Linked DNA regions of Homo sapiens. The protein of the gene in region 2 interacts with the protein of the main gene of each other region in a pairwise test. Each region holds a gene or a part of one and is shown on either strand. Other genes may lie near its edges.

Evidence for each region. Proteins that work in one complex are often made in the same cells at the same time.
Region 1: the proteins of LAMP2 (region 2) and CRCT1 interact in binary tests that used the Homo sapiens proteins (3 or more experiments, as listed by UniProt).

The regions. Positions count from the first base shown.
Region 1 is NC_000001.11:152,513,059-152,516,508, reverse strand, and holds CRCT1 (cysteine-rich C-terminal protein 1), read right to left. Parts: upstream 2,028-3,450; 5' UTR 1,957-2,027; intron 1,252-1,956; exon of another isoform or gene 1,148-1,251; 5' UTR 1,126-1,147; coding exon 826-1,125; 3' UTR 501-825; downstream 1-500.
Region 2 is NC_000023.11:120,462,797-120,466,296, forward strand, and holds part of LAMP2 (lysosome-associated membrane glycoprotein 2 isoform A precursor), read right to left. Parts: intron 1-3,500. UniProt on the Homo sapiens protein: Lysosomal membrane glycoprotein which plays an important role in lysosome biogenesis, lysosomal pH regulation and autophagy.

The sequences.
Region 1 (3,450 bases), on a different chromosome or scaffold from region 2:
AAAAAAAAAGAAGACAGCTGGCTTGATTCCAAAGCCCCAAAGAGTTGCCAAAACAAACTTTTACCACACAGCTGCCTGGACCTGGTGGTCGGGAGGAGCACCTCAGTGGTAAGGCTTGGGAAGCCCAGGTGAGAACTCAGCAGAGCAATGAAGCCCTTGAATCAGATGTCCTGTCTTCTTTATCATGCGCCAGCTGGGTGACTTTGAACAAATTACTTAACCTCAGTTTCTCTTCTGTAAAATGGGTATAATTGCACTCTCCTACGCAAGTCATTATGAGAATCAGATTGTGCCACATAAAGTCCTGAGAATATTCAAGGACTTTGTCGCATAAAATCCTTAAAATACTCGAAACAGTCGATATGTGATCGCTGCTATCATAATTAACTATCAGAAAGCCACCTTCTTGTTCAGGCATGAATTATAGTATTCTGCCTTTCACAAACATTTCAAGCCTTTCTACCTGGGTGGAGAAACGAATGAAGAACAAATAAAAGGTGTTCTCAGGAGGTAGAAGCTTTATTATGACATCTTCAAAAGACAATCAAATCAATAGACATTTGCTGAGCACCTGCTGTGTGCAAGCCCGTGTAGACAGTAGGGTCCAGTGTCCCACGCATGGCTCTCGAATCCCCGGGGAGAAAAATCACATCGGGGTCAGGGAGTTTTGCGTGGCTGAGAACAAAGTGGGTTTCTGAACATCAAAGTGCAATTCGCTTTACGGGGCAAACTCCGAGGCCCAGCCCCGCGTGGGAGCCGCAGCGGGGCGGGCCCGCTCTGGGCTGGGCGGGTTTCTCTAGCGCAGCGCTGGGGGTTGCGGGCCTCTCAGCAGCCGGAGCAGCATCCTGAGCTCCGGTTGTTGGAGCGCTGGGACCTCTGGCTGCCGCCCCCGCAGCAGCAGCAACCACTACTCCGCTGTCGGCGGCGTCTCCTTGGGAAGCAGCAGCAACTGGTGGAGCTGGAGCCGCAGCAGCCTGAGTCGCCGCAGCAGCCCCTGCCGGAGCCGCAGCAGGAGGAGGAGGAGGCGGGCGCCGGGGTGGGCGCCGGGGCGGGACACGGAGCGGGGCCCTGGGACGACCCCTTGGAAAAGCCTTTGGCGGAAACGGCGCTCTGTTGAGAGGACATCGCGGAGCTCCTCACGACAAACCTGGAAGAAAGGCAGCCTTTCAAAGGCGAGCCGGCTTTTTCTTTCCACCAATGGAACTCTGTCTGGGCTTTTGAGATTCGGCTTAGTGTACAAGTCAGCCTGGCCTGGGACAAGGAGGGAAAAGCACCCAGAAAGAGCGGACGCAAAGAAGCAAATCCAAGCAGGTGTTTCCAGTGAGTTAAACATGCTCAGAGCAGGACACAATCCATGCAATGAATCAATGCATTTCCATTTTCTCTGACTAGAAGAAGACTGCTCAAGTTCTCCACAGTGGAAAATAAACAGCACACTGCGGCAACTTATCTGTATGATCCAGTCCAAAATCTCCACTTGGCTTTTTTCTTGTCCCTCATTTTACTTTCCTACCGACCTTCGACTGTATCTTCCTAGTTACTACACCCCCATCAGTTAGAAAACACCCAAGTCCAACAGGCGGTCCCACCTGCTGGGTCTAAATAATCCACAGGCCAGAAGCATGTCCTGATCATTCTTTCTTGCCTACGCCTCTCATGCCCCACAACCATGTGGGAAAGGAGAGTTGTGCCAATATAAATAACCCCATCCAGGGAGCTGAAAGACCTGGGTTCTAGTCACAGCTCTTCTGCGGACTTGCTGTGTACCCTTGCAAAAACCACCTCCTATGTTGCCTTTATGTCCTCATTAGTACCTTAAGAGGTTGGCTCACTAGAAGCGTAGGTGCCTTGCGGGACACCCCTTCCACATCTATCTGCTGCCTGTGTTCTGTTTGCTCCTCCCCTGTGCCCTCAACTCATCCCACCCTCTCCCCCAGACCCTGCTAGGAGACTTACCAGACCCTGGCTCCACTGAAAGACTCACTACGTTCTCCAACTGGAATGGGCCACCTGCTAGGCAGTGGATTGAGCAGCGTCCAGCCAGAGAACCTTTTTATAAGAAGTATTCAGGTTCAGGCTCTTGGGAGGGGCCCATTTCCCAACAGACGTGCTCAGCTGACACTCACATCCCAGAGACATTCATCACTCAGGTAGCATTGTAGGTGGTGCATGTGGGCATCTAAGTCACTTCACAGAGGTGCCAGGATTGCTATGGCATGTTTACTTTCCAAACAGGGCACTGTTTGTACCTGGGAGGCTGTGTGTATGCTAAGAGAGGGCATGGGGCTCAAATGCAGGGAGGTCTGGAACCCCTGCCCTTGTCTTCAATACACACACACACACACACACACACACACACACACACACACACAGACGGCTCCACTTGCCCACACATCCATTCCTATGTAGTCATCTACTTGGTAGGTGGTAGTTCACCTATTTTTATCTTGATTCTCATCTCTCTGGCTCTTGGTCCTTGGCTCCCCAGGGCAGACCACAAGCTATGCGATAAGCCTGCTGGGTTTCATCCATATGCTTCAAGATGCAGTGAGTGAAGATGATGACGGGGATGCACCTTTGGGAACCCCAGGGGTGATTTCTCTCTGTCACTGGAGACAGGAAGAAAAACCTAGGCAAAGTTAAGGAACCATAAGACCAGAAAAGTTGTGAATGTAGTCAGGTTGCCATATCCCCATAATACAGCATGGTATGACAAAGAGAAAAATGTGTGCAGGACAGTGGCCCAATTGCAAAAAGGCTAGTCAGCCTGTGGGACTCCTGCTTCTTATCCCACCCCCAACCACCAATCTGCCTTTGAAGATAAGTTCTCCCTAGGGCCACTGCCCAGTGCAAAAGAAAATGGGAAAGGAAGAAGGGAGGGAGGGAAAGAAGAAAAAAAAGAGAAAGAAAGAAAGAAAGTTCTTTCCAAAGGTCCAAAGTGTTCATGATAGATAGTGTTTTCAGAATAACTAATTTTTAAGAATTGGAGGATACTTTGGCAGTCAACTTCAGAACTGCTTCTTAATCAAATTGCCCACAACTGTGAATGTGAACTATAACAGAAGTCCAAGACTAAGAATTCAGGAATTAAGGATGAGAGACAGGTTTGGGGGCGAGTGAGCTGGGAGTGGCTCAAGGGACTAGGCGAGGAAAGATAAGTCACAAAAGATACCAGTTTCATTTAACATGGATTTAGAGCCTGATTAACAGGTTGCCAGTTCCTAGAGCACCTGTTGGTGAGTATAGGTGAGACATTCCAAAAAGTAAAGTCAATATTAGAACAGAGAAGGAAGTAATGAAATAACAAGACAGAGGCAGGATCTCCTCTGGGAAAATGGGCAAAGTTCTTTTAAAAAAAAAAAAAAAGAATGAAGAACGTTTGGTAGGAATCAGTATAAGGAGATAATCTGGGCAAGTGCCTACTCATTCTGTGGGCATCCTATGATCTCA
Region 2 (3,500 bases):
TCTGGCAGTCCAACTTCCTAGCTGTGAGACTTTGGGCAAGTTACCCTTGTTTAGAATTATAGTGCATATTTCTCCAATAGGTTCTTTGAAAGCATATAAACCCTTCAGAGCTAAAAGAAATTTGCCAAACAAGTTAGATACCAATTTACAAGTCTCCTTTTTAGTAAACACAGCACCTAAAGGGAACCTTCCCAAGTTTTAGCTTTATGTTTACTTTCATCATATTAAATTCTGGACTCTTGTCCTCAAACTCATGAATTTAGAATGATGTTGAGCAAAAGGTCTTTTTAAAATACAGGACACAGAGGCATACGGTACCTATTTATCTTTGTTTTCTATTCAGAGTGATGGTTTTCCTACAAGTTTAAGTCAGATTAACTGTTTCTCCTTTATAATTCCTAATAATAGGTACACTCATTGCATTCAGTTACTTTATACCCTTGCTTTTGGTAAGTTTCTTAAAGGAGAAAAGCAATATGATTTTAAAGTAAGAATGTTGAACACATGAAAAAGAGTATTAAAAGTTAATAAAAATATGTTTTTAAGCTATAAAATGACTTAATTTGTTAAGGCCAAAGAGTGGGTAAGGAAACAAGATTCAACACTACTCAACTAATGGAAAGTGCTTATTGTTGAGCAGTGTTTGGCACACCTCCAGAATTCTTTCACAATGCACAGCAGGATACCAACAAGTACTTATAAAGTATACTTTTGGGTCTGAGGGGATCTCTGATCACTTTAATAAGAAATTATGATCAGAATACTTTTGCACTACAGAAAGAAGAGCAGCCTTCCTGCATCAAGGGTCATTTAAATCAGCTCCAGTGCTACGAAATAATGCTTGGTTATAGACAAAATCTACCCAAAGATATAGGGGAAGAAAGCTGTTCTTTTGGGACATATTTGAGTATCTATAACCCTATCAGATGTGACAATCTGATATTTGGGACATATTTGAATATCTATAACCCTATCAGATATGATAATCAATGACTAACAAACTAATCTGGTATTTGGGACATATTTGAATATCTATAACCCTATCAGATGTGATAATCAATGACTAACAAACTAACAAGCCTGTCCTTTCTTATCTTCTAGCTTGACTTCTGTTTTTCGTTTTTTTTTTGTTTTTTTTTAGGGTTCAGAATTTTTCAGTCCTTTACAGTATCTCTATTATAACTAGAATAATTTGGCAGAACCTCGAAATCAAAGTTATCAGTTAAATGAAATGTGTTAAGCCTATAGAAAAATCTTAGTGCTTGTTTTCTCTCAGAGAAAACCTAACTTTGTGAAAACCTAACTCTCCTCACCAAGGAACTCCTAATTCTCCATATTACCCCCTTCGAGACTACGGAGGTATATCTGAAGGAGTACAGGTAAGAAACTAGCATTATTATATGGGATTATACATTAGTAAATTACTGTATAATTATCCGTACTGCTTAGCACTGATCTTGAAGTTTTCAATCCAAAAGAACTTCTTGCAAAACATCATTTAAAATTCATGGAAGAAAAAGGAGACTAAATGAGTCTAGTTTACCACCATATCCCTAGTGCCCACCAATGAATATCTTCAACAAAAATTCACTACGGGTTAACCATGTACCAGACCCTATGCTAGGTAGGCAATGGGAAGTAACAGTACATAAGATCGTCTCTGCTCTTAGAGACTGCTACCATAGGAGAGACTTGACTAAAACTAGGGGGAAACAAAAAAGCGTGGAAAATAGGCTAGTAACCTAAGATTTTGCAAATGATAAGATTTATTCCTATTTCCCCAGATGGTCACATGGCTGGCCTCCTGCCAACACCCAGGTCTCTGCCCAAATGTCACCCGATAACGGAAGGCCCTCTGACCACATAATATAAAGAAGGATCATCCACCATCACCCATTCCTATCATCTACTCATTCTCCTTTCTCATTACCTGTGTAATTTTCTTCATAGTGTTTTTGTTTTGTTTTGTTTTGAGACAGAGTTTTGCTCTTGTCCCCCAGGCTGGAGGACAGTGGCATGATCTCGGCTCACTGCAACTTCCACCTCCTGGATTCAAGCAATTCTCCTGCCTCAGCCTCCCGAGTAGCTGGGACTACAGGTGCTGGCCACCATGCCCTTGTATTTTTAGTAGAGATGGGGTTTCACCATGTTGGCTAGGCTGGTCTCGAACTCCTGACCTCAGGTGATTTGCCCACCTTGACCTCCCAAAGTGCTGGGATTACAGGCGTGAGCCACCATGCCCGGCCTCTTCATAGTGTTTATCACTATCTGACATTATATTATTTATCTGTTGAGCTTTCTTCTCCCATTAAAATGTAAGCTCCATGAGAGCAGGAACCTCATCTGTCTTATCCATTCCTCTGTCCCTTTCACCTAATATAGTGGCTGGGACACAATAGGCATTCAGTAAACGTGTGGAAGGGAGAGGCTCCTACCAGTAACATACACTAAGAATATTTCTGTGAGGTTTTTCCCACCCAGAAAAGCCTCAAACCTAAAAAAAAAAAATTCTGAACCCTAAAAAAACAAACAAACAAACCAAAAAACAGAAGTCAAGCTAGTTATAAGAATCAATAACCACAGAAGAATCCTGAAATCTATGATATCACAAAAGGACCATAATTAGGCAATTATATAAAGAAAGGATTTTCACCCACTATCCACTTTATAACACCTCTAAATCATATAGCTTCTCTTCGGAAAGTTGTCTGGTCAGTTACAATTCATCCAAATAAACACCAGCATAATTTAATCTCTATGAAAAAGACCAATATATAGCCTCTAAGAATCCTTTTCTGTACTTATTCTAAAGCTGCTGTTTTTAAAAGGTTATGGGTGAAGCTGGGATAGAGTTATAAAGTTACAAAGTCAAACTGGCACAGCTAGAGCACTAATGCTAATAAGACTATAAATTTAGGACAGGTCCTCCTTCATTGGCACTCCGTACAGTACCCAGGCACAGTTCTAGCTACATAGTAGGTACTTTACAAATATTTATTGATTTAGCTACATATTAGGTACTTTACAAATATTTATTAAGTTTTCAAAAACCTATTATTGGTATCCATTTTGATATAGAAAAGTAACTTGTGCAAAACCCACCAAGCAACTGCTAAATTCTTGACAGAAAAAGCTATATGGGAGGACTTTGGGCTCCACACTGAACCAAGAGCCATCAGAAAATGCAGCTGTATAGAAAAATGGTTTCTATTTCATCCTGGAACCTCTTAAAAATCAGATCTAGGTACATTATTAATATTTACTTTTCCAAATCCTGCTCTGAACTTGGAGGCGGAGGGAATCAATCTTGGAAATTTTCCAAGAGGAAGAATCTAGTTAGTCCTGATCAATAAATGGCAAACTAGCAGATGAGCTGATGGGTTCTTTTATGTGCTTCTTTTTGCATGTTTATTTTCTGCAGTGAGTAAGCATTGCTTTTGTAAAAACAAAACAAAAAAGCTTTCATTAAAAAACAAAAAAAAATTTAATGACATGAAAGC